Linked DNA regions of Homo sapiens: all the other regions are reported to be linked to region 1. The links are microRNA targets in miRTarBase. Many come from high-throughput screens and were not tested one by one. Region 1 holds a microRNA gene; each other region holds the end of a gene's coding sequence.
The links. Region 1 holds the annotated microRNA hsa-miR-6768-5p (CACACAGGAAAAGCGGGGCCCUG, at 2,781-2,803, shown strand). A microRNA usually pairs through its seed, bases 2 to 8, with sites in the 3' UTR of a target mRNA and lowers its output. Matches are read on the target gene's strand: a 7mer-m8 pairs with bases 2 to 8, a 7mer-A1 pairs with bases 2 to 7 and ends in A, and an 8mer does both.

Region 2: the mRNA of ZMAT4 is a reported target of hsa-miR-6768-5p. Seed matches in the 3' UTR shown: 7mer-m8 at 2,543-2,549 and 7mer-m8 at 2,387-2,393.
Region 3: miRTarBase lists MTCH1 as a target of hsa-miR-6768-5p. Seed matches in the 3' UTR shown: 7mer-m8 at 1,365-1,371.
Region 4: miRTarBase lists NAP1L1 as a target of hsa-miR-6768-5p. Seed matches in the 3' UTR shown: 7mer-A1 at 2,240-2,246.
Region 5: the mRNA of IL1RAPL1 is a reported target of hsa-miR-6768-5p. The part of its 3' UTR that is shown has no 7-base or 8-base seed match.
Region 6: the mRNA of PTPRJ is a reported target of hsa-miR-6768-5p. Seed matches in the 3' UTR shown: 7mer-A1 at 3,022-3,028 and 7mer-A1 at 964-970.

Annotation. Positions count from the first base shown.
Region 1 is chr16:2,461,192-2,465,833 of GRCh38, forward strand. MIR6768 (microRNA 6768) reads left to right here and starts at 2,776; the gene lies at 2,776-2,847. It overlaps TEDC2 (tubulin epsilon and delta complex 2), which reads left to right. Exons shown (of 10, transcript NM_025108.3): 4 at 1-33; 5 at 556-609; 6 at 958-1,048; 7 at 1,224-1,335; 8 at 1,440-1,541; 9 at 2,848-3,038; 10 at 3,331-3,772. The coding sequence ends at 3,477. It overlaps TEDC2-AS1 (TEDC2 antisense RNA 1), which reads right to left. Exons shown (of 1, transcript NR_135198.1): 1 at 3,759-4,642.
Region 2 is chr8:40,528,485-40,533,453 of GRCh38, forward strand. It overlaps ZMAT4 (zinc finger matrin-type 4), which reads right to left. Exons shown (of 7, transcript NM_024645.3): 7 at 2,106-3,754. The coding sequence ends at 3,739. Among named protein-coding and RNA genes, the nearest start is that of SIRLNT, 190 kb to the left of the region's middle.
Region 3 is chr6:36,964,799-36,969,767 of GRCh38, reverse strand. It overlaps MTCH1 (mitochondrial carrier 1), which reads left to right. Exons shown (of 12, transcript NM_001271641.2): 12 at 794-1,627. The coding sequence ends at 865. It overlaps PI16 (peptidase inhibitor 16), which reads right to left. Exons shown (of 7, transcript NM_153370.3): 7 at 4,931-4,969. Among named protein-coding and RNA genes, the nearest start is that of PI16, 13 kb to the right of the region's middle.
Region 4 is chr12:76,044,534-76,049,502 of GRCh38, reverse strand. It overlaps NAP1L1 (nucleosome assembly protein 1 like 1), which reads left to right. Exons shown (of 15, transcript NM_004537.7): 14 at 253-303; 15 at 1,039-4,969. The coding sequence ends at 1,074. Among named protein-coding and RNA genes, the nearest start is that of PHLDA1-DT, 15 kb to the right of the region's middle.
Region 5 is chrX:29,955,577-29,960,450 of GRCh38, forward strand. It overlaps IL1RAPL1 (interleukin 1 receptor accessory protein like 1), which reads left to right. Exons shown (of 11, transcript NM_014271.4): 11 at 1-1,142. The coding sequence ends at 244. Among named protein-coding and RNA genes, the nearest start is that of MAGEB2, 260 kb to the right of the region's middle.
Region 6 is chr11:48,166,589-48,171,557 of GRCh38, reverse strand. PTPRJ (protein tyrosine phosphatase receptor type J) reads right to left here. Exons shown (of 25, transcript NM_002843.4): 25 at 719-4,354. The coding sequence ends at 4,196. Among named protein-coding and RNA genes, the nearest start is that of OR4B1, 48 kb to the left of the region's middle.

The DNA of each region.
Region 1 (4,642 bases):
GGCCCCAGAAGCCTTCACACTCAAGGAGAAGGGGTAGGTTTCCCGGACCCTCACTGGAGGGACTTCTGTCTCTGCCTCCTCAGACCCTGGCTAGCAAGGAGCCTGGGATTTGGGGTGACAGGGAAGGCAGGGCATCGAGCCCTGTGGCATACCCCTGAGGCTCATGCTCAGAAGCTGGCAGAATGAAGCAGCTGTGTGGTGGTGTCCAGGTTGGCACCATCAGGTCAGGGAAGTACTGGAGCCTGTCCTCCTCTCTTCTCTGTGGCTGTCCCCTTATTTGCCCAGGCCAGAGGCTCCAGATGGGCTCTGGAGGGCGTGGGATCTGCTCACAGGGCCCCGCTCACAGGGCCCCCTCTTCTCTCTAATGGGGCAGCACTGGACGATGCTTCTCCTATGGCCACTCTGGAAGCCCTATCCAAGGGGGCTCATCCTTGGTGGGGTCGGGTGTGGGAGAGGGGCAAGAAGCCTCATCCCTGATTGGGCTCTGAGCAGGAAGTGGGACTTGTAGACCCCAGAGCAAGGCGATGCTCCTCTGAACACGGGCTTCTCCGACAGGCACCTGCTGCGGCTGCCTGCGGCATTCAGGAAAGCAGCTTCCCAGAACTCGAGGTGAGGCTGAGGTCTTTGGCTGGACGGGGGTAGGGGAGAACCGGGAGGCATCACCAGCTCGGGGACAGGTTCGAGATACTTTCCAGTGGGTCTCTTTGTCCTCTTTGCTGAGTGGGATCACTGTCGATGTTAAAAATCTGCCAGCCGGTCAGCTTTGTCCCCTTGTCCTAGTCAGTGTCCTCTTGGTTCCCTGCGGCCTCTGGAGGCCCCTCCTGGCATTCAGCAGAGCCAGACGCCCAGCCTGGGGTCCCCACCCTGGCCCTTGCCTACCTCCCAAGGCCCAGCTTACTGGCTGGAATAACCGTGTCCCTCTGTGGTTCCTCTGTGCACCCCACGTGTGCACCCCAGCCTGTGGGCCCAGCTCAGTTCCACACAGACCAGTGATTCCACGGATGCCGCCGCTGCCAAAACCCAGTTCCTCCAGAACATGCAGACAGCTGTATCCTTGCTGGGCTTGTGGGAGCCCTGGGGGCCTCTAGCTCTGAACCTGGCAGGTTTGCAGAGCAGCCCCAGGAGGGGCTGGCGTGGGATGGCCAGGGCCACTCCCCAGGCCCCGTTCTTGGTGGGAGCAGAGGGGCTTTGGCTGCAGGGAAGTTTTCCTGACCCATATCCAGTCAGGCGGGCCCCAGCCCAGGCTCAGTGCTGTGGAGGTGGAGGCGGAGGCGGGGCGCCTGCGGAAGGCCTGCTCGCTGCTGAGACTGCGCATGAGGGAGGAGCTCTCGGCAGGTCAGTGGGTCCTGGGTCTGTATCAGGAGGAGTGTGGAGGGCCAGTGCAGGGAGGGTTTCCAGACTGCCACGGGCCCCACCTGCTCTCCCTGACTCTTCTGCAGCCCCCATGGACTGGATGCAGGAGTACCGCTGCCTGCTCACGCTGGAGGGGCTGCAGGCCATGGTGGGCCAGTGTCTGCACAGGCTGCAGGAGCTGCGTGCAGGTGAGACCCCGCCCCCACCCTGCCACCTGCACTGAGGTCTGGGCCGGGGACAGGGTGCTTTAGCCAGGCTTGTCTGCGCCTCAGGGAAGGGTGAGCAGCCCAGGGACCAGATGCAAGTTGGTGGGCCCCTCCACCCCTCCCACGCCACTCCCCAGTGTGCTGGGTCCTCACCAGTCGTCCTATGGGAGCAGTCAGCCTTCCTCTCCTCCTCAGGGCAGCTCTCCCACCTCGCTGCTCCCCGCACACAGAACCTCATTGCTCTGAGCAGTTGCTTATTCACCCAGTTGTTGAAAAACTAGCATGTGAGGGCCGGGCGCGGTGGCTCACGCCTGTAATCCCAGCGCTTTGGGAGGCCAAGGCGGGTGGATCATGAGGTCAGGAGATCAAGACCATCCTGGCTAACACGGTGAAACCCTGTCTCTACTAAAAATATAAAAAAGTAGCCAGGCGTGGTGGTGGGCGCCTGTAGTCCCAGCTACTTGGGAGGCTGAGGCAGGAGAATGGCGTGAACCCAGGAGGAGGAGCTTGCAGTGAGCTGAGATTGCGCCACTGCATTCCAGCCTGGGCGACAGAGTGAGATGCCGTCTCAGAAAAAGAAAAAGTAGCGTGTGAGGCCGGGCACAGTGGCTCACGCCTGTAATCCCAGCACTTTGGGAGGCCAAGGCAGGCGGATCATTTGAGGTCAGGAGTTCAAGACCAGCCTGGCCGACATGACGAAAGCCCATCTCTACTAAAAATACAAAAATTAACTGGGTATGATGGCGCACACCTGTAATCCCAGCTACTTGGGAGGCTGAGGCACAAGAATTGCTTGAATCCAGAAGGCAGAGATTGCAGTGAGCTGAGATTGCACCACTGCACTCCAGCCTGGGTGACAGAGTGAGACTCCGTCTCCAAAAAAAAAAAAAAAGAGAAAGTAGCTCGTGAGAATCAGCTCCTGGGAGGTGACTCGCCTGGGATTGCGTGAGGTGGTTATTTATAGAACTTGTTTCCTCCTTTGTATTTTCTAATTGCTTGAAGTTTTAAGAGTGAAGATACATCATTTGTCAAAAGGAAAGACAATCTCATAAAAGTCATGCATAAACACAGTAAAGAAATTAGGCAGGCAGAGGGCCACCCCACAGAGGACTCCCTGCCAGCAAGTCCAGGCCCAAGACACACCATCTTGCATGGGGCTGTCCTGAAAGCCCACCTTTCTCCTAAAGGCAGGGCAGGTGGTGCAGATGCGGGAGGGCCAGGCACACAGGAAAAGCGGGGCCCTGGGTTCGGCTGCTACCCCAAAGGCCACATTCTCCTGTGCACACAGCGGTGGCGGAACAGCCACCAAGACCATGTCCTGTGGGGAGGCCCCCCGGAGCCTCGCCGTCCTGTGGGGGTAGAGCGGAGCCTGCATGGAGCCCCCAGCTGCTTGTCTACTCCAGCACCCAGGAGCTGCAGACCCTGGCGGCCCTCAAGCTGCGAGTGGCTGTGCTGGACCAGCAGATCCACTTGGAAAAGGTGCTTCTGGAAGAGGAGGTGGGGGTGCAACAGAGGTCCGCAGCCTTGAGGACCCGAGGGTAGGGGCTTGACTGCTCCACCCCCCAGGACCCAGGAGGATGGGGGCAAGCCTGGGGTCTGTGTGTGTGGGTTGGGAAGTGCATGGGTCAGACGGGGCTGGGACGGCAGGAGGGAGCCTGGAGCCTCAGAAGGAGGGAGGAGGGCTGAAGCATGGGGGCCTCGAAGCCTGTCCCAGGATTGCCCCCCGCCTAGGTGCCCCTGAGACCTTGGCCCTGCCCTGCCCTGCCCCCAGGTCCTGATGGCTGAACTCCTCCCCCTGGTAAGCGCTGCACAGCCGCAGGGGCCGCCCTGGCTGGCCCTGTGCCGGGCTGTGCACAGCCTGCTCTGCGAGGGAGGAGCACGTGTCCTTACCATCCTGCGGGATGAACCTGCAGTCTGAGCCTTTCCCATGCTGCCCTCGGCCTGTTCAGATGGGGATTGGGGGTGTCTTCCCTGGCACTGTGCTCGGGGACCCAGAGATGCCTGTGCTTCCCTGGGAAACCTGGTGAACTGGACCAGGTGGCCTCACTGGCTCTTCTCAGGACAACTAAGCCTGCTGGTCAGGGCTGGCTTTCAGCCTTCCTAAGGCTCCTGGACTCCAGAGGCCAGCGGGGAGCCTTTCCTGGCTCCCTCTGTTTTCTCTCACTGTAGACCAAAGAGCCGCTTGTGTGATATTAAAGCCACTTTAGAAAGCATTTGTGTTTATTTATGTTTTTGAGACAGTCTCACTCTGTCGCCTAGGCTAGAGTGCAGTGGCGTGATCTCAGCTCACTGCAACCTCCGCTTCTGGGTTCAGGCGATTCTCCTGCCTCAGCCTCCCGAGTAGCTGGGACTACAGGCTTCGGCCACCACGCCTGGCTATTTTTTTTTTTTTTTTTTTTTTTTTTTTTTTAGTAAAGATGGGGTTTCACCATGTGGGCCAGGCTGGTCTCAAACTTTCGACCTCAGGTGATCCTCCCACCTCACCCTCCCAACGTGCTGGGATTATAGGTGTGAGCCACCGTGCCTGGCTGAAAGCATATGTATTTAAATCATGCCAAGGTAGGACTTGGTGAGCCCTTGTTGTTTCTTTATGATTTTATCAAGTTATATCACTGGTTGATACATGTCATGCTGAAAAAGAATATATCAAGTGTATTTATCAAGATTATAAGTGGGCCGGGTGTGGTGGCTCACGCCTGTAATCCCAGCACTTGGGGAGGCTGAAGTGGGAGAATTGCTTGAGGCCAGGAGTTTGAGACCAGTTTGAACAACAGTGAGACCCCATCTCTACACAAAATTTGAAAATGAGCCGGGCATGGCGTGTCTGCCTGTAATCCCAGCTACTTGGGAGGCTAAGGCGGGAGGATCGCTTGAGCCTCGCACTTTGAGCCTGCAGTGAGCCATGATTGCACCACTGTGCTCCAACCTGGGTGACAGAGCGAGACTCTGTCTCGATATCCCTTCTGTATAAAGGACGGGACAAGGCCACTCAAGGCAGGCCCAGCATTGCTGAAAGCCCTGCCCCCTGTAGGCTGTAGGCTGTATGCATTCATCGGAGGACACGAAAACCACAAGGCCATATT
Region 2 (4,969 bases), not on the chromosome of region 1:
CCAGTCAAAAATGCCTTCTAAAAACATTTTGGTTTGGTTTCCAGGTGCTTTTTGTTTCCCTAGGTGCTATATCTGCCAGTCTTGGGTTAGATGCTCTCAACCCATGCTAGGATTCCATTTCACATCAAAATTTTTATATCTTAAATTTAAAGCCAAATTTACAAACATGAATATTACAATCAAATATTCAGACAGTTGATTTGACATGCACATCTTAAACTAGAAAACAAATTAAGGCAGGATTTATACAGAGATCCATATTTTTAAGCACTTGATATTTATTAATTAGCGAATCCACACCAGAATCCTATGAGGTAGCCTAGCTTGTCTTTATTATAAATAAATTAGGTAGAAGCCAGAAAAAAAAAAAAAAGGCTATCTCCACAATAATATGTTGATTGGACCCTCCTTATTCTGGTCACAAAAGAAAAACAGTTCCTCATATAAGTGGGTCAAGTGAACAATGAATATTTTGTTTGGATGGAATATAGAGAGAGTATAGTTATTTTATTACCTGGCAGTTTAAAAAGGTAATTTTCTTAGTGGGGCTTTAATATTCTGTGTTCACACTGACTTGTCAGAAATTTCCGACTCAAAATATCAGCTTTGGAAGAGTTAGAATGCCCCCACACTCCACCCCCAGCCCCAACCAGAAGGCTCAAATTTTCCTATGGGAGTTTTAGTATTTTTCATGTATCTTAAATTTTTCATCCTTTGGTCTGGTTGACCTAATAAACTCATGTCAATAAAAAAGTGTAAAGACTCTTTCAGTTCCAATTTATGCTTATATATGTCGTCTAACAGGCAAGTGAAACACAAATCCTATTTGTCTTTGTAGTCAAGCAATTGCGGATGAGAGTTTTATTACTACCTTTATCAGCCAAAGGAATCACTGTAGTCCCCTTTACTTAGCAGATTACTTTATGACTATATTTATTAGTTCACTGGGCTTGGAGACTAAATTTAATGAAGACTCATTAATTTGGGTTTCACTACCGTGGCGTTTGTGGCCTCTGGCACAGGTGCTAGCCTGAAGCTTACCTCTGTACTGACGGAGAAAAACTTTTTGCAAAGTAAATTAACTGCATGACCAAGACTATAGGAGTGTTTTATCTTCTTAAGAAGACAATTTCAACCACGTAACCACTAACCTTTTAAATACAAATAATTTTACTCTGATATAGTATAAGGAGTCCATTAAGCTTGTGTGTTATGTTAATTTTGAATAATTTTTCCCTCACTGCAGCAAAACTTTAAATGGGCAGTATTTGGTTAGTTTAGTTAACATTATTATAAAAACTCTGGAACAGTAAAAATACTTTAAATATTGATAATTTGAATAGCTTCACTCTTTCAAATATATGGGTTCTTTCCTAGGTCCTTTTAATTAACATTTTACAGAAAATCACTTGACTCATGTTCTCAGCTGGCCCGGAGTCTCTGCTGGGACCACGTGTCAGCAGCTCCGGGTGGACTGGACGTAAGACAGGGACACACCTGGGTCTGTGTGGGTCTCTTTCCTCTCCTTCAGAATTGATTTGGTTATTTGAAAACATTTACCTTCCATCCCACTCCCATCCACTCATAAAAAAATGGGAAGGTAAGATATGACTTAGCTGAACAAACACAACCACAGCAAACCAAACAGAAAAGACAACCACAAACAGCTAGCTTCCCAAGTAGGAATCTTTCCATTCCAGAATTCCCAAAATATAAACAACATTAGCAGCCCCTTCCTGCCTAAAACTAAATATGTCATCTCCAGGGTACACTAGAATGATAATTTCCACTATCTGCATGGGCAAAAATAAAGAAATTTGAAAACAAACAAACACACAAAACCTCTGGCAGGGTATTCACTTGCATTTGACAGGTTGCCAAGGAGCAATGGTATTTAGATGAGGAATTCTGAAATAATCTGATTATTATGGCCGGAAGATTATCTATAAAGGGTTTGGCATAGCCTCTCTGTAAAGTAAAAGAAATCTATGTTCATAGACTTTTCTATATTAGGTTATTTTAAATACACACACACACACACACACACACACACACACAGCACTTTAGGGCATAAGCTCACTCACTAAACCCAAACTGAAACAGTGTTTTGTTGTTGCTGCTGTTTTTACTCGGACAATGCTTATTTTACAGCGGAATTGACAAATAAAGCCTTATTTTACACATCCGAAGAAACACCATCACAGGAGGTTTGTAGGTCGGCTGTGTGCTTTCCAAAACAGCAAAATAGATTCTTCCCATCCAACCCCCTTTCCTCTTGTAGAGTAGGGTGTGGCTCGTGGGGCTTCGTCTCTCTGCAGGCACAGAAACTGGCAGACCTGGTCCCTCCTGAGCGGGCCCTGCTCAAGGGAATGGTGCCAGATTTTGAACACAGGTAAACAGGCTCCTTCATAACAACACTGTGCATTTCTGTGTCATTTTGTTTATTGCTCACTGAGTTGTTGCCACCTCAGCTCTTGGTGGAAAACAGTGGGTGTCCAGAAATTGCTGACACAAGAAGATGGATTGCCTATGGTCGTTAGGGACACAGGGCAGCCCCAGCCAGATCCCAGCTGGTCCATGCAGGGCATCGTCAGTAGAAGCTCAACGTCCCACTTCGTAACCAGGCTACAAGACACCAAGTCCGGTCACCATGGAAAAGAATTAAACCTAGAGAAAGAGCCTCATGATCTGCACTCAGACGCTCCCCATCAGAAAGGAACTGTTTTCTTTATCGGTCATGCTCTTTCCAGAGTGACTGAGTCTTGGCTCAGCAGTAGGACTTCAGTGAGAAACAGAAGAAATAGGGGACCCCGCCTAGCCCAAGGCCGCCATTTCTTCAGAATTTTCTCACTTCTTTCCAAACGATCAGTATCCCCCAATTAAAGCCCACAGTTCAGGCCAAACATCATAAAAAAAAATACTTGTTTATTTCCATCTCATTCTGGGGTTTATAATTCTTCTTTTGGATGCTTTTGGGGAAAAAAATTCACCAAGGTCAAGGGCTGTGAAGACGTTTTTGCCTAAGAAGATCATCATGCAGGCAGACTAATTCTTTTCCTAAGCTATTATTTGGCAACTTGCAAGGAGGACTTGGCTTAACCTTGAGAAACTGTTCTTTGAATGATCAGGAAAAAAGATGAGAATTCTTCCTTTATTTACTCCCTTCGTCTTCATTGTTCAGATGGTAAACCTGGCTCCTGTGCTTGGAGAACGGAGAAAACGACTGGTATTTATTTGTCCATTTGGTATTTTCCACTAATAGTGATCTGTTCCAGTTCTGTGCATGTCACCCTCAACTGTGTCCAACATGATGAGAAAAGAATGTATATTTCTGGATAGAGGTGGTTTACATCACACTCATTGAGGATTTAACAGAATAATTATGCTCTGAGGAAATCTAGAATAAATTGGAAATTTAAATTTTTCCACTTTCAGTTTGAATAATGCTCCAACTGTTTGCTATAGGATTATAATTTAGAACATGTGCTAAATATGTTATCAGGAAAGAATTTAAAAATCCATCCAAATATCATAACTTACCCCAAAATTAAAAAAAGGAAAAAGAAAAAAGAAACCTCATTCATTTCCAAAAATCAAGATCAGTCGTATGTGAATCTGTGAATCCTTATAAGAAATGTTTATTGTTCAAGAAAGAAGCCTCCTCTGGTGGTTGATAAGCAATTCTCCACGGCAGAGAAATGCTAATGTTTTGTTCTTATGTCTTGATTGATGCTTTCACTACTTATTCTTCAGGCTATAAGACAGAAGGAAACACAGTGTTACCTTCTTTCATAATTACAAATTCCAACACCTCTTTCTCCCCCCCACCCCCTGTCTCTCTTCTACTTCTCATATTACCTTAACCATCAAATTCAAATGCATCTGAATTTGTAAAGTTAATCTTTCAGGTTCTAAATAACCTGTATATATAAAATATCTCCATTACTAATGCCATCTCCACATACGTACAAGAAAATGTATAGCTCTACATTGTCAATCCAGACACTAAATTCATTCCAAATGTTTTTAAATAAAAATAATGAATTGATTTTTATTTATGGCATGCTGCATACACCCATCTTTAAGTTTCAGGTATAACTACATGCAGAACCCTCTTGTTGAAAGTGGAGAGCAACATTACAGTGGCTAAATTTCAAATTAATATAAGCCTCGTTGTCCACTCATTCAGAATTTTCTCTGTTAGAAGAATAGAAAAAAAAAATTGTTTCTGGGCCAGGTGCAGTGGCTCATGCCTGTAATCCCAACACTTTGGGAGGTAGAGGTGGGCAGATCACGAGGTCAGGATATCAAGACTATCCTGGCCAACATGGTGAAACCCCGTCTCTACTAAAAATACAAAAATTAGCTGGGCATGGTAGCATGCCTGTAGTCCCAGCTACTCAGGAGGCTGAAGCAGGAGAATCGCTTGAACCTGATGCAGTGAGCCGAGATCGTGCCACTGCACTCCAGCCTGGCAACAGAGGGAGACTCCATGTCAAAAAAAAAAAAAAAATTCTTTCTGGCCTTACTTGCAAAAAGTATTGATTTAATCAAATTGAGAGCCAATTTTTGAAGGATTTTTAGTTTTGTTTTTTTCTTTATGACAACAAGATACTACCTCTTACAACATGCCTACTACGAGTCATGAATTTTACATTTACTTTACATTTTAATTTAATCCACAGACCACTTTTACTATGTGTGCCATTTCCACCCCTTTTAAAGGTGAGAACACTGAGGTTTCACTTGGCTAAATTAATGGCACAAGATCAAACAGCTGTTAAGCAGTGGAACTTGAACCCTGGAAAAACTCATAAGCAGGAGGTGAGAGAGCTTGTTGACATCTTCTGCCGGGGATTTCTCGCATGCTGCTGAAGAAGTGCTCCAGCTGAAAGGAAGCTGCTGGAAAAGCATCTTCTAGTGGTGGCTGTTTCCCTTAAAGAATATTTTAGAGGGAAGGGTGGCAAAA
Region 3 (4,969 bases), not on the chromosome of region 1:
TAAGAGAACTCTGGCCCAGGTGGCAGGTGGTAAAGCCCAAGAACTGCTTCTCCTTCAAGTAACATGGGCTGAAAATTCGAGGTCTGTAACCAGTTGAGCTGAGTTCCTGGGTTGTTAGGGCGGCTGGCATTGGAAACCGACTCCTCCCTCCTGCAGGACATTCCTGGGCCCAGGAGAGCCTGTGGGTGGGGCTGGGCCACGTGGGGAACTGGCAGCAGTACCAACCTTGGGTTCTCGTGTTCTGTACCGAAGCTACCTCTCCGTAGCTGGAGCTCTTGGGCCCAGCAGTCAGGGGTCCAGGCTTTGGCCGAGGGCAGAACCTTGCCTTTTCCTGGCCTTGATTTGCCTCGCAGTGAAATGGGGCAGTGGCCCGGAGGGAGCCAGAACTCTGAGTGGCCTCGAGGCTGAGAAGAGGACAGATGGGAGGGAAGCAGGGAGGAGAGCCGCAGTTCTTCCCAGTGGCCCTGGTCAGCGTGAGTGTGTCTCGTCCTCCCTATGAGCACTGAAAGAGTCCTAGACCACTTGGGCTCTGAAGCAAGAGGGGCAATGAGCCTCCTCTCTAGGGCTCTCCTACAGAGTAGCCCCAAAGACACCCCTGGGCAGGAAATGAACCGCTCCCTTCTGCTTCAACACAGGCAGATTCTGCCCTCCAGGGATGTAGGCCGAGGCCGTCCACCCCGGAGCTGGGTCTTTGAGCTCCTGGACCCTTCTTTGCCTGACACTGGCCTTCCTCTCGGAGGGACAAGGAAGCGTGGCCTCCCTTTCACTCACCTTACTTTTCCTTCTGGTCCAGGGCCAGCTCTTCCGAGGCTCCAGCCTGCTTTTCCGCCGGGTGTCATCAGGATCATGCTTTGCCCTGGAGTAACCTGAATCATCTAAAAAACACGGTCTCAACCTGGCCACCGTGGGTGAGGCCTGACCACCTTGGGACACCTGCAAGACGACTCCAACCCAACAACAACCAGATGTGCTCCAGCCCAGCCGGGCTTCAGTTCCATATTTGCCATGTGTCTGTCCAGATGTGGGGTTGAGCGGGGGTGGGGCTGCACCCAGTGGATTGGGTCACCCGGCAGACCTAGGGAAGGTGAGGCGAGGTGGGGAGTTGGCAGAATCCCCATACCTCGCAGATTTGCTGAGTCTGTCTTGTGCAGAGGGCCAGAGAATGGCTTATGGGGGCCCAGGTTGGATGGGGAAAGGCTAATGGGGTCAGACCCCACCCCGTCTACCCCTCCAGTCAGCCCAGCGCCCATCCTGCAGCTCAGCTGGGAGCATCATTCTCCTGCTTTGTACATAGGGTGTGGTCCCCTGGCACGTGGCCACCATCATGTCTAGGCCTATGCTAGGAGGCAAATGGCCAGGCTCTGCCTGTGTTTTTCTCAACACTACTTTTCTGATATGAGGGCAGCACCTGCCTCTGAATGGGAAATCATGCAACTACTCAGAATGTGTCCTCCTCATCTAATGCTCATCTGTTTAATGGTGATGCCTCGCGTACAGGATCTGGTTACCTGTGCAGTTGTGAATACCCAGAGGTTGGGCAGATCAGTGTCTCTAGTCCTACCCAGTTTTAAAGTTCATGGTAAGATTTGACCTCATCTCCCGCAAATAAATGTATTGGTGATTTGGAGTTTTTTGTGGGGCGTCTCTTATTTTTGTAAGTTTAAAAATCTATCTATAGAGTCTATCTTTCCAAGTCCTTCCTGTTGGTGTGAGAAGGGGCTGTAAAGAGGCAGGGCAGGGGGCTGCCAGATTGGAGATGTAGGTACCAGAGCTTGGTGTAGCTCAGTCTCCAGGGAGACACTGGGTGATGAGGCTGGGGTGTCAGTTTCCACAGCAGCAATCAGTGTGCAGGTCTGTTGCCAGGGAGACAGGCCTTTCAGAAAGTGTTCCACTCACACCCCTTACTGTCATATCTCAGCACCATTTGAGGATAACGTAGCTTCAAGTTTTACGAAGAGTCACTTGGTGTAGTGGCCATGGTTACATCAGAACGGGCAGACCTCCCTTCCATCAAATGGTTTTTGCCCAGCACTGGAGTCTGTAAGCAGACAAAACTTACAAATATTTTGAGACTCAGCTGGGTTCCCCCAGGTATTTCTCTGCCCTTGCTCGAGGTGACCTGGCTTGTGAGAGTTGGGGTCTGGTGGGTTTGGTCATATTTCCCTCCACAGGTAGGGGCTGAGTCACCCCCGCCAAAGGGAAGGCCCCTGTGTTGCTTGTGCACAAGTGGGTGTTCCCAGTGGCCTAGTAACAGTGGACTCACAGGCAGTTTCACCTCACATGTCCTTGTTTCCCAGGAACGCAGAAGTGTGCCTGTGTGGGTATTATGTAACTACACTGGTTGAGGCCACTAAGGTCTCATAACTTTGTCACCCATATTAACTTTCCTAGGGAAACACCCAAGAGGGCTAAGGTAGTGGGAAGAACACATGCAGGGGTGGGCAGGGCAGGCCTGTAGAGAAGGAGGGCCTCGGGTTCCCAGGCCCTTCAGAGGGGAGTCTGCCCTGTGGCCTTTCTCCAGCCCAGCGTGCTTTCCCACAGCACTGACCACTGTTCTGGGGTATCTTTTCTTCCTGTTGCTCCAGCCTCAGATCCTGTTTTTGCATTGATTAGTTCCTAAGGCCCCCCGAGATTGAGGGGCACCTGTATCTCTGGAGCCTGAGCTAAGCTAGATCTGAAGAGCTCCTCCCAGAAGTTCAGAGAGGCTGCCCAGAGTAGAGAGCAAGGTTTTAGTGGCCTTGGCCAGTCACCTCTGGGAGGGCTGCTGCTGCCCCCAAGTAACTTCCTGAATTTGGGGGTTTCAACTTCATTTCCCAGGCCATCTTCCACACCCAGAAATGGCATGAAAATCTCTTGATACTGTGTCCCAGTTATTGGCTGAGCAAAGTACAGGTTTTTAATCTAATGAAACAGGAAGTTTTCAGTTCATTCAAATTCTTGTGTGTGTGAAATGCTCCTAGACCATTTGATCTTTGGGGGTGAGACCCTGTCCATCTGCCCTCCTAGCAGTTCGCGTGTTTCCTGTCGACTAGTCCTGGAAACTAGGATGCTGGGTCCTCATCTGAGAAAGGAGATTGGGTGGGATTGGGCAGGAGGAGACCTCAGCTGCTGGCAAAGGGAGGGGTGACAGGAGGAGTGTCCTCCTCCTCCCGTCCTGGGAAACCTCATCCAATGGGCAAAGCTGAAAGGGCCTCTGACAGGCCTTTGGGGACCTCCTTATATATATCCTTACGTATATACCCAAGATAATTGGAAACTTAACGTTCACACAAAAACTGGTATATGAATGCTTAGTAGTAGTATTCGTAGTAGCTCAGGAGTGGAAACAGCCTGAGTGTCCGATGACAAATGGAAATGTTCTATAGAATGTAATGAATATTCCATAGAATGGAATATTACTTGGCAATAAAAATGAATGAAGTTCCGATTCATGCTACGACATGGATGAACCTTGAAAGTATGTTGGCTGAGAGCAGCAACTCACAACTATAATCTCAGTCCTTTGGGAGGATAGCTTGAAGCCAGGAGTTCAAGACCAGCCTGGGCAACATAGTAAGAACTGGTCTCTACAAAAAATTTAAAAATCAGCTGGACATGGTGGCATGCACCTGTAGTCCCAGCTGCTCAAGAGGCTGAGATGGGAGAATCACTTGAGCCCAGGAGTTGGAGGCTGCAGTGAGCTATAATCCTGGATGTCAGAGCAAGATCCTGTCTAAAACAAATTATATATATTTATATGCTAAGTGAAAGAAGCAGTCACAAAAGACCATAACATATATGATATGTCAAGAATTTATATGGATGTTAAGAATAGACAAATCCATATAGATAGAAAATAGATTAGTGGTTGATTGGGGCTGGGGAGGTTGGAGGGAAATAGGGAGTGACTGCTAATGGGTATGGGGTTTCTTTTTGGGGTGATGAAAATGTTCTAAAATTGTGACGGTTTTACACAACCTTGTGAATATAGTAAAAACCGTTGAGTTGCATATTTTAAATGGGTGAATTTTATGTTGTGAGTTATATCTGAATAGAGCTGGAAAAAACATAGAGTAGACCGGGCGTGGTGGCTCACACCCGTAATCCTAGCACTTTGGGAGGCTGAGGCCGGTGGATCACCTGAGGTCAGGAGTTCAAGACCACCTGTTGACCAAACCCCGTCTCTACTAAAAATACAAAAATTAGCTGGGCGTGTTGGCAGGTGCCTATAATCCCAGCTACTCGGGAGGCTGAGGCAGGAGAATCGCTTGAACCCGGTGGGCGGAGGTTGCAGTGAGCCGAGATCACTTCACTCCAGCCTGGGCGACAAAGCAAAACTCTATCTCAAAAAAAAAAAAGAAAGTAAAAGAGGGGAGTGTCCTCCTTGGTTACAGGTCGGTTCCCAGCCCTGGCCTGACTTGGGTGGTGTCCTGTTTGACTGCTCACCTTCCAGCGGTGGTCTGGAGACTTGCTCTGCCCCTCCCTACCACCCAAGCCACCCTCAGTCATCCACCACTGCTACCCCAGCATATGTGTGCTTTCCTGATCCTCAGCACCTCTGGACAGTCCTGCTTTGCTCCCCTGGGGAGGGTCTGGGACTCCAGATCCCTTTCTTAGGACTCTTCCAAGCACCTGGGGCTGGCAGAGCCTTGCCTGATGTACATTTCTGACCTTGTGTCCCAGACAGGCCTGGATAGCAGCGCCCCCGTGAAGAGGCCGCATGCCATGCTTTGATCCTGGGCTCCAAACCTACCTAGGCCCCACTGGTGACTCCTGAAGCTGGGGGAGTCAGCCCAGCACCCTTGGCCTTCCTTTGGCTCTTCCCCTTCCTGCCTGCCACCTGTGATTAGGGGGAGGCGAGAGTTATAGGAAGGAAATGAAGGGTGGGTCCCAAAGAGGAGACACTAAATGGAGTGTTTTAGAGGAGGGGGATGAGAAAGAGAAGGAATAGTTGCCACAGGTTGGACAGGTTTTTATTGGAGAGTCAGGA
Region 4 (4,969 bases), not on the chromosome of region 1:
CAAAAGCTGCAGTAAACTTTTCCAACGTTGGCTGCAGTAACTATTTTCAATAAAAGCTGTCTGGATGTCTCAAGTTGTGTTGGGAAATTTTTCATATTAGAAGCTTTCAAATTAAATTGTATTATCATCAAAGTCTGTAATCATGAAAATCTGTTGATCCGTAGAGTAACTTGTATTAAATTTTCCCTACATTATGAGCCAGTTTACCTACTATGTACATACTTCATGGATGCATTTTGAACTTTAATATAGGAAGGGGAAGAAGAAGGAGATGAGGAAAATGATCCAGACTATGACCCAAAGGTGAGCAAAATTAGTGCTGCTTTCTATTAAATTTAAGATAGCTAAAGTAAGAGTTGGTGTTTTTGAATATCAAGTTTCTCTCCGTTAAAGTCTTTAATAAATAAAGCCTATTGACTGGATAACTTTGTTTTTTCAGTCCCACTGGCATTGTGAACAGTACACATAATTTCAGTGGACGTTTTTCTAAAAAACATTGTTTTTTGTTTGGACTTCGTGCTTTTTATAGTTTCAGGTACAGTGAACCCTAGGATTCTATTTTAATGGGACGATTTGTAACAGTTTTTAAGCATTAGAAAATAAAGGTTTTTAAAAGATCTGGTTGTAGGAGTGTTCGGGAACTGGGGAGCAGTGCAGTTTGTTAGATCCTTCCAACTACTCTTACTCAGTCCCTGAGAGTCCTAGTCTATTATTCCTGAGAATTTGTTATATTAGGATTAGCAAAAACAAAGCTGATTGGTAATATAACTAACATAAATTGCTTGGTAACTTTATTTTTTTAAGATTATGGTTTAGCGTGTGTCACATTTTATGGAGTTAATTCTACAGTGTAAAGTTTGAGCTTGATTTTAGCATTTCAGTGACTTGCTAATAAAATAAATAATTTACCACCATTGTCCTATACCATTTCTTTTGACAACAGTGAGCTACTGTTATAATTAAGGCAGTAATTACTATTGAGAAATTCACTGAAGCAGGTAGAAGAAGATAGATTGACTTGTTGTTTTCCTTTAACAGAAGGATCAAAACCCAGCAGAGTGCAAGCAGCAGTGAAGCAGGATGTATGTGGCCTTGAGGATAACCTGCACTGTAATAGCCTAAACACAACTCTTATTTACTTACAGCCTTATGTTTTTGTATTTTCTTGGTAGACTAGGTAATTTTTTTTTAAAGGACAGGAAACTGATATTTTAAAGACCAATTTGTTCTACCTAGCATTTTAACTAGTTTTTCTGCCAGCTATGTTGAATGCACAAATTCTGTCACGCATGTTCATTCATTGCTACATAATTTGGTTCTTCTGGAATATTTTTATGTAGCTCTTGGAGTACAGCTATGAAAATTAACAACTGTTAAAGGAAATACCTTTTTTTTTTTTTTGTAATTTTTTCCTTGAAGAACCAAAGTATTTTTTCAGCTGGTTGTTGAATAGGGTTAAGTCCGCTTGGATTAGCTGTGCCTTTCATTACTTTGTTACAGAAATGCAGTGACTTATACTAAGACAATTTATTGTTTAAAAAAAAAATTGGCAAGACAACTATATGGTTAAGAATTTCCAGTATGACCACACCCAATAACTGTTATTAGAGTGTTAATGGATTATTGTGTTTTAGGTGACATAGTTAACTGTAAAGTAACCTGACTCAGTATAGTTACTGGTACCACAGTGAGGTGAATAAAACGGGATTTTCAGAAGTTAGCCTGAATTTAACTGTATTTTTAAATTTAACCTCCATTAACTAAGCATCTTTTCTTTGTGGTAGGGTCTACCTTCTGCTTCCCTGGAAAGGATGAATTTACATCATTTGACAAGCCTATTTTCAAGTTATTTGTTGTTTGTTTGCTTGTTTTTGTTTTTGCAGCTAAAATAAAAATTTCAAATACAATTTTAGTTCTTACAAGATAATGTCTTAATTTTGTACCAATTCAGGTAGAAGTAGAGGCCTACCTTGAATTAAGGGTTATACTCAGTTTTTAACACATTGTTGAAGAAAAGGTACCAGCTTTGGAACGAGATGCTATACTAATAAGCAAGTGTAAAAAAAAAAAAAAAAGAGGAAGAAAATCTTAAGTGATTGATGCTGTTTTCTTTTAAAAAAAAAAAAAAAAATTCATTTTCTTTGGGTTAGAGCTAGAGAGAAGGCCCCAAGCTTCTATGGTTTCTTCTAATTCTTATTGCTTAAAGTATGAGTATGTCACTTACCCGTGCTTCTGTTTACTGTGTAATTAAAATGGGTAGTACTGTTTACCTAACTACCTCATGGATGTGTTAAGGCATATTGAGTTAAATCTCATATAATGTTTCTCAATCTTGTTAAAAGCTCAAAATTTTGGGCCTATTTGTAATGCCAGTGTGACACTAAGCATTTTGTTCACACCACGCTTTGATAACTAAACTGGAAAACAAAGGTGTTAAGTACCTCTGTTCTGGATCTGGGCAGTCAGCACTCTTTTTAGATCTTTGTGTGGCTCCTATTTTTATAGAAGTGGAGGGATGCACTATTTCACAAGGTCCAAGATTTGTTTTCAGATATTTTTGATGACTGTATTGTAAATACTACAGGGATAGCACTATAGTATTGTAGTCATGAGACTTAAAGTGGAAATAAGACTATTTTTGACAAAAGATGCCATTAAATTTCAGACTGTAGAGCCACATTTACAATACCTCAGGCTAATTACTGTTAATTTTGGGGTTGAACTTTTTTTTGACAGTGAGGGTGGATTATTGGATTGTCATTAGAGGAAGGTCTAGATTTCCTGCTCTTAATAAAATTACATTGAATTGATTTTTAGAGGTAATGAAAACTTCCTTTCTGAGAAGTTAGTGTTAAGGTCTTGGAATGTGAACACATTGTTTGTAGTGCTATCCATTCCTCTCCTGAGATTTTAACTTACTACTGGAAATCCTTAACCAATTATAATAGCTTTTTTTCTTTATTTTCAAAATGATTTCCTTTGCTTTGATTAGACACTATGTGCTTTTTTTTTTTAACCATAGTTCATCGAAATGCAGCTTTTTCTGAACTTCAAAGATAGAATCCCATTTTTAATGAACTGAAGTAGCAAAATCATCTTTTTCATTCTTTAGGAAATAGCTATTGCCAAAGTGAAGGTGTAGATAATACCTAGTCTTGTTACATAAAGGGGATGTGGTTTGCAGAAGAATTTTCTTTATAAAATTGAAGTTTTAAGGGACGTCAGTGTTTATGCCATTTTTCCAGTTCCAAAATGATTCCATTCCATTCTAGAAATTTGAAGTATGTAACCTGAAATCCTTAATAAAATTTGGATTTAATTTTATAAAATGTACTGGTGATATTTTGGGTGTTTTTTTTTAAATGAATGTATATACTTTTTTTTTGAAGAGTGGAGAGTAGTGATGTCTAGAGGGAGCTATTTTGTGCTGAGGCCACTATGTTCTGTAAATATATAATTTTAAGAGCAACCTCACAATCCCTGCTAAGTGGAGTTTATTATTTGAAGACTAAAATGGAATTCCATAGTTCCTGATAGGTTATATTCTGGGTTATTATTCTGAGTTATCTACAAACATTTTTGAGATTTGTCTTTACACTCTGATTGTAGTTTCCAGCAGCCCATGCACACTGCCAAGTAAGTCTCATTTTTTCCTGTTAGAAATGGTGAAATATCATATAATCACTTATAAAGAAAACTGATATGAAAAAATTTTAGAGTTGTTTGCTTTATGGTCACTCAAGTAGGGTAAGTGTTCCACAAATTCCACAAGTTGATAGTTTAACATGGATGTCTGAAAGCCACATATATAATTTCTTAGGATTCTTAAATTAGTAAATCTAGCTTACTGAAGCAGTATTAGCATCACTATTTTAGATTGCAAAAATACCTTAATTGTGTGGAACTGGCTTGTAGAGTGGTACTTAAGAAAAATGGGATTCTACCTCTATTTCTGTTTTAGCACACTTAATCAGGAAAGGATATATTAACTTTCATAAAAATATTTTTGTTGTGTGAATAGGTTAATGATATGGTAAGGCCCCTAAAATAACTGAATTAATTGTTTATTGTAATTGTAGGCCATTCCCATTATTAAAAATAAAGACAAAACTTGAAGTAACTGAAAATCTTATCGTGCTATGTAGAAATATTGAACTAATATTCAAATATTTGAATGCTTTGGTTTCAGGGATTGGTTTAAAATTGGAGTCCTTTTTTATGGGTTAGTCTTACAAAAATTTAAGCCTTTATATTTTTGACTTTAAATCAAAACAAATGTTATTTTAAATGTACAGAATAGATTGGTAGTGCAGAAGAGTGTAAGTTCTTCATAGGAGCTTTAGAAAAGAGAAATATGTGCTAATTCAGTTTTTTTTTAATCTGCACTGTACATATATACTTGGTAATTATGAGCTTGATTTTGTTTTTGGAAATATGTGTTCATAATTTAGGTAATTTGCTACTTAAAGCACTAAGTCTCTGATACCTGAAAAGTACATGTAAATGGTGATGGTGAAATAATACTGCAGTTAACTTAATAGATGTATACTGGTGATTTTTGTATGCTGGATTAAAACTCCAGATATTAAAATATAACCTGGATAAAAAGCCAAGTTCTTGGACTGATTGAGGATCACTTACATGACTTTACAGAAATGGAAACATCCTTGTTGGTATATGAAATTATTTTACTCAAGGATAAGTATTCATAAGAAATTTTGATTGATGTATATTTTCAAAAATACAGTATGCTTTGTATCTTGTGTTTCTTCCTTTTGACATCATATTGTCAGGTTTTCCAGTTTACAAAAATTAAGTTATTCACTAAAATCTTAGTACAGACAGTCCCTGACTTATAATGGTTTGACTTAAGACTTCAGCTTTATGAGTTTATTGGAGTATTAAACACATCTTCTACTTATGATATTTTTGACTTACAGTGGGCTTATTGAGGCCCGACCATGTCATC
Region 5 (4,874 bases), not on the chromosome of region 1:
TTCACAAATGCGTCAGAAACACTACTACCGAAGCTATGAGTACGACGTACCTCCTACCGGCACCCTGCCTCTTACCTCCATAGGCAATCAGCATACCTACTGTAACATCCCTATGACACTCATCAACGGGCAGCGGCCACAGACAAAATCGAGCAGGGAGCAGAATCCAGATGAGGCCCACACAAACAGTGCCATCCTGCCGCTGTTGCCAAGGGAGACCAGTATATCCAGTGTGATATGGTGACAGAAAAGCAAGGGACATCCCGTCCCTGGGAGGTTGAGTGGAATCTGCAGTCCAGTGCCTGGAACTAAATCCTCGACTGCTGCTGTTAAAAAACATGCATTAGAATCTCTAGAACACGAGGAAAAACAGGGTCTTGTACATATGTTTTTTGGAATTTCTTTGTAGCATCAGTGTCCTCCTGTTTTACCATGTCTTTTACCATTACATTTTTTGACTTTGTTTTATATGTCGTTGGAATTTGTAAATTTACATTTTTTTTAAAGAAGAGACTGATGTGTAGATAGAAAACCCTTTTTTTGCTTCATTAGTTTAGTTTTAGAATGGGTTTTTATTTTATTTCCTTTTTTAAAATTTTACTTTGCTTTTAACATTTCCTTGGGGTGCTTGGACAAATCTATCCGATGGGACAAGGAGCACCGGATTCTTTCTCGGGTTCTGCCTAGCATCAACTGGGCCACGTCGGCCTTCAGAGAACAGTGCAACAAATGCCAGCATTGCCATTCGGGGGAAAAAAAAAAAAAAAAAAAAAAGATGAGAAGAACACTTGTTCATAGGAGGGCCCCACCAGTCAGAGCCCTGAATCTCTTCCTTGTCCCACCTCATTCCCCACCTCTACCTTTCTAATGGCGGCATGATGTGTAAACTCTGTGCAGGGGTGGGGGCGGGTCTAACTGTCTTAACATTCAAGTCACTGCTCTTCAGAATACACTCTAGACCCAAAGGTGTGCTAATCACTTCACAGTGACCACTACAGAGTACTAAGAAGAGAAGATCAAGGGCATGAAATTGGGGAAGAGTGTTATTTCCGTTTTTTAAATGAGTTGATGTACCCTTATATATATATACATATATATATAAATATAAATATATATAAAAACAACAAAACAAAACAAAAAAAGAAAAAAAAACAAAAAACAAAAACAAAAAAAAAAAAAAATCAAGCCCTATATTTGATCACTTCCTGGAAAGGCATGAATGTGTTTGTGGCTGTTTTTGTTTAATCTTCTACTTCCTCTTTTCCCTCTATAATTTCTCTGCAAATGAGATTCTGTGCAAATGCCAGGCAAGTTAATTCAAAAGAGTGAATCAACGCAAGTCAAAATGAAATTTACACTGAAGGCTTCCAAACCAAAGGGAAGGACAGGATGTGTCATCAAATATGTTTTGTCACCTTGTATTATACAAAATGTTATTTTCTAAAGAGTCAGAGAAAATCTGTGAAACTTATTGTGCGGCCCCCTTGTAATTAAATGTTAACTCCCTTGTATTTAATTTTCAACACTACATTAAGAATTAAGTGGTTTCAGTTTGTGGACATAAGCAACACTTATTAATATCAAGGTGTTTAAGAACTCAGGAGGTCAAACATATGAATACCAACAGAGATCAGTATTTTCAAAATAAACATTATTTATACAAAATAGTTTTTAAATTAGATCAGAAAGTATTTAAAATAATTAATTTTACTGTATAAAGAATTTGCTTTATTTTAGCTATGTAATTCTATCTTTCAGAAAACAGAAAGCTGATGCTCCCAAGAAGTTCATCCCTTACCATTTAGCTTTATGTTTGAAATCAATGACATAAGCAGCTAATTCATATTCATGTGAAGGTTGATGCAAAATCAATCACAAAGGAATCTGCAGAGGGCAGAGTTGTTAAAAGGAAATATTACCTATGTAGCTTTTAGTTTTTAAAAAAAATCAATGTGATAAAAACACTGATAATAGAACTTATACATTAATTTAGTGATTCATTGTAGGAACTCCCATCCCAGTCATCATCTGTGGGCCTGTGTAGTGACTATCGTACGTTTGGTTTATTCCTACCACCATTTAGTGAGAAAACAATTCTACACTTTTGGTCACAATAGTAAGGTGGCCACACACACACACACACACACACACACGTGTAAACTGCAATAGGGTTCATTGGGGAGGGTGAGGTTAATTTGCAAATATATGAAGAAGAAGTGTAAGCATTTGTAACAATGAAAAGGTCTCAGTATCTGTGTGACAAGGTAAAGGAGCCTTGGGATGTGCATTGATTATTATTTGCTTAAAAATTGTTTATTTCCCTGACAACTCGCCTGTGTCCTTCTCTATAATCTGTTCTTTATTCCCGTGCTCTCCCCTTGGATCTGTGTCACATTTTCACAAACCAGAACTGAAGCTGCAAGGACACATAAAACTTTAAGGTCAGCTTTGCACATTGGGTTATTTTCAGAATCTGAGAAGGCCATTGTTTACTTTGTACTATGGACAGCTGTCAGGGACTGGTGGCAGTGTACCTCACTGGACTGGATTCCAAACTCCCCCAGTGCTCAGAAAACTGTAAACGTGGCAATGGCCTGATTTATCTCTTTGTTTTTTAATTTTTCTTTTCAGTGCACGATGGAAGTGTGGAATAAATGTAGAGGAAGTAATCAGACCACAGTCATATTTTAGGCATCCATAGGTGTTAATTTAGCTGCATTGGGAGTGCATTTTTTGTTCTATTTTTAGTGTAGATTTAAGCACTTTGAATAGCATGATTCAGGGATTGATGGGTAATATTTGATATTCTCACAACTTATGAAACTTCTTTTTCCTCTAATGCTTTGTCATATTTAAAAAATGAAATAAATGCAAAAGAAGCTATCTATAGCTTTAGAAACATTCCTCCCAAGTATTCCTCTATCAGCTCCATGTGAGAAGAAATGAAGGAAACTGTCATGTGTTCACGTGCTCTATGTTTAACAAAAGTTCTGTTAGAACTCACAATAAAAAGAGAAAAAAATCAATGTCCCCTAGTGCTTAGGTTTCATCCTTCGCTTTTTTCAGTGGGGGCTGTGGGGGATAAGAATATTCTAGTTGTAAAAACACAGTTGAAAGTGTGAATATGTTAGCCAAGCTGGGGGAGAGAATGGACTTCCAGACTTGGACATACGTGATGTTTGGTATTGCCTGTTTTTCATCAATTGCCGCTCGAGCTCTGAACGACACATTGTGGATTCAAAAGATCATCCGGTTCTTTAGTGTAACCTCTACTTGCTGCTTATGAGCATCCTACCCCTTATTTGGGTGCTCAAAACTTTTGCTTATTTAATTTGTACTGCATTCCTTAGGTCTCCTGTGGGCAGAGAAGACATTTGTATCTCATGTAGACAGCTGATTTAAGTTTAGATCAATTCTATGAAACAAATCTGAGACATGAGTTAAGAGACCTGAATCTACTATATTTCTATAGCTAAAAACACTCGATTGCTCAAACAGTAAACCACTTTGTGATTATAACTTTCTTCATAGTATATGTATTTGGACCCTATCAACTTAATCTTAAAATATAGATGCTGGTTTCTTCCATATTTCATTGCTATCTAGCATTTTATAACAAGAATATTAACTGAGAGCCAACCCTTAAACTGTAAGTCTTGTTTATCCTAGAATAGTCATTAACTTTTCAGATATCATTTATATAAATTAAGATCACCATTTCTAGGAAAACATTGATTCATACATTTGTGAATTATTTTTGGATTCTGGAATGATGCCCTAGTTCTCTTTTTTGTAAGGAGTATTTTTTTAATCTTGTGATTAATTTCTTTATTTATTAGGTTAAGTTTGTAACATTAGTCCCAGAAGAAAGCATATTGAAATTTAAAGGATAGCATCAGCATACAAATGAAATGACTGACTGGAAGTAAGAGAATACACAGACATAGAAGAGGAAAATCCCTTCCTGTCTCTGATCTGAACTTGCTTGGTCATTAATCTCATTATTGACATAGCTGATTAATAGAGGTGAAATATTATTAAATAGGTTAGAAATCCCATCTACAGACAGACACACATTCCCTATTGCTGAGGAACTTTTCTAACAGTATATACAGTTATTACCAAAAGATGGTGATGCAACTAGAATCCCTAAAAGGAGAAGCTTATCAATGGAAACAGAGGCTATTCCTTGCCTTATCATGAATCCTTTACACTTCTTTATTGTTCTGAACAAAGAAGGTAACCAATAATCAAAGTTTGATTATCCTTAATAGTAGATCTTAATCTTGGGTTCAAGGATACCTTGTGTCTATAAAAAGGAATAAAATAACAAAGCCCTTGAAATTCCAGACAAAATTGTTAATGTGCGTAAAACGGTGTTCGTCTGGGTGTGAGTCTCAAGACATCTAGCACCTAAAAAGCTACTGATGTTTGGATTTAGAAGATATTCTCAGAAACTGATATTCAGATAAACCCACATAACTTACAGGCATTGTTTTGTCTACCACTGTCTACCTTCATTCATAAAAACTCTGGAGATAATTATTGTTCTACTAGAGACAAGTCTCCTTCCAAAATGGCCTGGCTTTGTGGGAGACCCAGCATACTGTAAACAAAAATTTTGTATGATGACAAATAATTCATGCTCAGATAAAAACTAATTGGCTATCATTGTTGTGATAATCTTACTCATGTCTTCACCCATTCTAAAAATAGTTTGGGGTGTGTGAAATTATGTCATTTGGCAATGATGCCTTATTTCAGTAAATTTATTTATGATTTATGTTTAATTATTTTTCCTACAACATAACTAAGAATTCATCCAGTACAGGAAAAGAAGAAACAAACATTTGACATGTTTTTCTAAAAAAAAA
Region 6 (4,969 bases), not on the chromosome of region 1:
GGACAAGGCGGGTGGATCACGAGGTCAGGAGTTCGACACCAGCCTGACCAACATGGTGAAACCCTGTCTCTATTAAAAATACAAAAAAATTAGCTGGGTGTGGTGGCAGGCACCTGTAGTCCCAACTACTCGGGAGGTTGAGGCAGGAGAATCGCTTGAGCCCGAGAAGCAGAGGTTGCAGTGAGCCAAGATCATGCCACTGCACTCCAGCCTGGGCGACAGAACAAGGCTCCATCTCAAAAAAAAAAAAAAAAGAAGGAGATTAGGACACAGACAAGCAGAGGGAAGACCATGTGGAGGCATGGGGAGAAGACAGCCATCTGCAAGCTACGAAGAGAGGCGCCTGAAGGCTGGGGCAGGAGAACTGCTTGAACCCAGGAGGCAGAGGTTGCAGTGAGCTGAGATCACGCCTCTGCACTCCACTCTGAGCAACAGAGTGAGACTCTGTCTCAAAAAAAGAAAAAAAAAAAAGGCCTCACAGGAAACCAACCCTGCCCACATCTGGATTTCAGCCACCAAAATTGTAGGAAGTAAATCTCTGCTGTTTAAACCACCAGTTGGTGGTACTTGTTACAACAGCCCTAGAAAACTAAAACAATCCGGAAATCCCAAAGAGAAATGTGTTTTTGTTAAGGATGCCCAAGTAAAATGCAGGCCAGTAAACTGCTTGGCACATTGTAAGAAGGAAAAAAGAAGAAAGAAAGAAGCAAAGGCATAATGCATTGACATTTTTTTATATTTGGTATTTGTAAGTCTTTAAAAAAATGTTTTCAGGCCATTTTTTCCTTAAAAAAAAAAAAAGCAACCAACAGCAATACTCTGTACAAGTATAACAAACATTAGAAATATGCATCATTCCAAAATAGTTACAGGAAAATTACAGTTTAGAGTCCACATCAACACATCCTATTTGTATGTGCCCCCAAGGGAGAAAAAGCTACAGTATGTTAAACACACAGCTGCTACACAGTAGTCTGAAAACCCAGGACTTAAAACTTTTGAGGCAAATCAACAACAGTCACCAAGACTTGTTTAGCTCAATAAGTACAATCAAGCATTTCAAAAGAGAACCAGGCTTTTTCATCCCAGATGAAAAACACACGTGATGGGCTGCATAGCTGACCCCCGCCCCTCGATCCCCAACCCCCGGGAGCCTCTGACTCAACAGAGCACAAATCCAGTGGAGTCAATTAGGCGGAAGTCTGGCTGGAGGTCACAGTATGGCTGCAGTGGGCAGACACCAAATGTCATTTCCTGCTGGTGCTGATCATCACTAGATCCAACTTTGGAGGCAAAAAGTCGTTGTTCCTGGGAGATGCTATCAATGGCCCAAATCCCCCAAACCAGCTGGCCACCAGTCTTTGGCCCTTTCATTGACACCCAAACCCATACCAGCTGCTTTTCTGTATGCAATTGTCAAAGACTGAACAGGGGTGCTCACACCATCCCCCCGATTCCACTGGACTCTTCCAATTTGAGCTCATTGTTCCTGGGAGGGGTTGAAGCTCAGAGGCACCCTCCTCTTGCCTCTGACCAACCCCCAGCCTGTGTGTCCTTTATATTTACACATTAATCTTCCCTTTTCAAGCACTGTGCTATAAATACCCTTACCACCCCCACTGGCCCTGTCCCCAGCCCTTTTCAGGATGCAGAGAAGCATCGTGACCTTCGTGTGACCTGCCCATTTGGAATCCCAGACCGCTCCCCCGCAAGAGTTCCTCCCATGATTGCTGGGGCCGCTTGCCCATTTCCCAAGCCCACACCAGGCGGAAGGGAAGAGGGTTCCTGTGTTTTTCATTTTTATACAATATGTTTACAGTTATGTTGCTTTAATCTTTTAAAGTATTTAACCTTTTAAAGGATTTTTTAGCAACAAGTCCCTTCCTCTGACTTCTCTGTGGCAGTGATGTGGGCAGAGCAGGGCTTAGGAGCTCCCTGGGATTTGCCACCCATCACAATGGTTTCGGACATATTGGAGGGGAGAGGGCCACAGCCCACAGAACTGCTGCCTGAACAGGGACCTATGAATGAAGTACCGACCGCTCCGAGATCTGTATGAGTTGGAGGCAGGCCAGTGTGAAGGTGTGGGAGGAATCCGCCCACACCCAGCTTCATACAGCACCCTGAGGACAATGTGGCTTCCCTGATTCACACCTACTGAGCCAAGGCCCCCTCTGAAGTTAGGTCAAGAGGGCCCACCCTAGCCGGGCCAACTCATTCCTTTGAGGACCTGATACTCAATGAACTGCTTACTACCAAAAAAATGCAAAGGATTCAGCAAAAAGTGCAATTTCCATTTGAGAAGTAAGATTCTCCCCAAAACATGACACCACCTTTTCATCCTTTCAGTACCTCAAAGGGAAAGGGAAATAAAAGGCATACAGCACTAACCCTCCGAACCACAGCCGGGGCTTTAAAAGTGTGGTTCACCCTTTAGAACCCTAAAAGACCCATTAACACGTCCAGTCAGTTATCGAAGTGCCAGTGAGGTGAGGGGCGTGGCAGAGTCAGGAGGGACCAGGAGGCTGGAAGAGCCCGCTCACATTCTCAACAGGACACACCTGTCCTGTTTACAGCAGGACACATTACTGTGGCAACAGCCACAGGACTCCAGGGACTTGGTTATTCCTTCATAAAACCTTGTCAACTTCATTGCCTATTGGAGGATAAACTCAAAACATCTTCAAAATATAACCTGAGCCACAATATAAAATAAAAAGAAAAAATCTTTTCATGTTAATGCCTTAAGAAGTTTACAGATTATGTACCAATAAAATAAATCCACATAAATTTGAAATTCTTGGTGGATACACACCTGAAGCAAAAAAAAAAAAATTAATCTACATTTTAAAAATCAAAGTAATTACAGCAGCAGTATAGTGAAAAGGTTTTAAAAATAATAATTACATCTTTGATACAAATTCAAACTTTGTACACCTCAATTCATAGGAATGACTGTTTTTGAGAGCTTAGTGTATATATATATATATATATATATATATATATATATATATATATATATACACAGTAGATTCCGATATGTGTCACGGCAGAGAGAGACGAAAGCCAGTGGACTTTGGGGAAGGAGGGATTAATCTGACACTGAATTCACGCTGAAGTGTTCACAGATTGCCACGCTTCTGAACATACACACACACATACAGACACAGACACATAAAATGCCAACCTGAGTAAAACGTTACTAAAAACCTAGAACATCATGAATCACTAATTCACATATTGCACCTTTAAATAATCCTTCATACCAAATACAGACATGAGAAAAAGGATAATACAGGGACAAGAAAAGGATTTCTGCCACTGTAGGATTCCTCTGCTTCTCCCATTCCCACCCACAGAAATTCTCAAGGTGATATTTGAGTCGCCATTCTCACCCAACCAATGGGTTGAAAATGTTGCCAACAGAAGAGTCTTTGGAGAAAACTGGGAGGGAAAAGGGAAGAAAAAATGGAGCACAAATGTACAGGGGGCAGGGGAAGCGGAGTCGGGGCAAAGAGGCCTCCCCTGATCAAATGAGAACAGAAATGTTACTGAGGAAGCAAACCTCTGATGCTAAGCTACTGTTTAAATATTCCGTATATTCCAATTATGAGATTCAGTACAAAAATATAGATCTCTACTGAGTTTTGCCTGTGGAAGCATAATTCAGAAAAGGCACATGTTCAAATAGAAAACCCATTCGGAAGAGGTGCCACGTACCCCTCCCTGCGCAATCATCATCCACAATTAGGTATTTTCCATCGGCTAGATTCCAAGACACAGTAGGTAAAAATAGACCTCTGATACTTAAAATATATTCAACCCAACACAATCCTGGCTTTAGCATGTGAATCATATAAAATAGTCTTTTTTAAAAAAGAAATTGTTTTGGAAAAAAAAATCATAGCTCCCTTTTCCTGGTTTTCCACAATCCTCAAGGGGGAAAAAAAAAAAAAGTGACCTCATCCCATTGGTCATCAGGAATGCAGATGATTTGCTCCCCACCCATCCACAGCCCCCGACAGCCCCAATTTGTCATCTATCATATGCAGCTTCATGCCCTCAAAATTAGTTCTCACAAAACAGAACAAAGAATTAAGATATTAGACATATAAAAACATGTCGACATCGGGGCATGTGCCTTCGCTGTGGGTGCGACGGTCTGGTTCACTCCAGAAAGGTTATTCCTTTGGAATTAGGCGATGTAACCATTGGTCTTTCCAAATGTGGTCACGGGCGCAAGGTTTTCATAGATTGTCATTGCAGTTGTGTTCTGGTAGATAAGATCTACTTTTGAGTCTTTCTGGGATCTGACAATATCCAAAACACACTGATTGAGGAAAACATACTGGTCCTGATAGAAAAACGAAAGAGAGAGACAGAAAATGAACATGGGTCCCAGAAATTAGCACCCAAAATTATTTTCAAACAGGTCATTCCCCCGCCCAACTCCCAAACCCCATCCACCCAACAGCAAACGGTTCAAGCGAACATGTTTCAAGAGGTAACAACATTGCAGTGAAATCTGAAATCACAGAAGCAAGATGTCCTTCCTCAATGATTCTCAACCAGAAGAGCACACTCCACACCTCCCCTCCCCAAGGAAAAATGCCACAGTCTCAGGGAAGGGCAAAGGAAGGAGGAAATGTAGAGGAAAAAATGCACACACACATTCGAACAATCAAATGTCCAACAAGATTGCCTTGGCTAGTGAGACTGTACAGAGTAAGAATCAACTGTAATGCTCAACCGAGGAGCGAGGTTAAAAGGAGATGATCAGGTGGAGCTGGATGAGGACTATCCTTCAGGTAGGTATATCAGAATCTGTGGATAGTGATGAAGAAAAGAGGAAACAAGGGTATAAGCTGACACAGAAAAATATCCATGATATTATAAGAGGAGAAAAAAAATCACAGAGAAGCAACATACATAAAACAGGATCTGGCCAGGCGCGGTGGCTCCTGTCTGT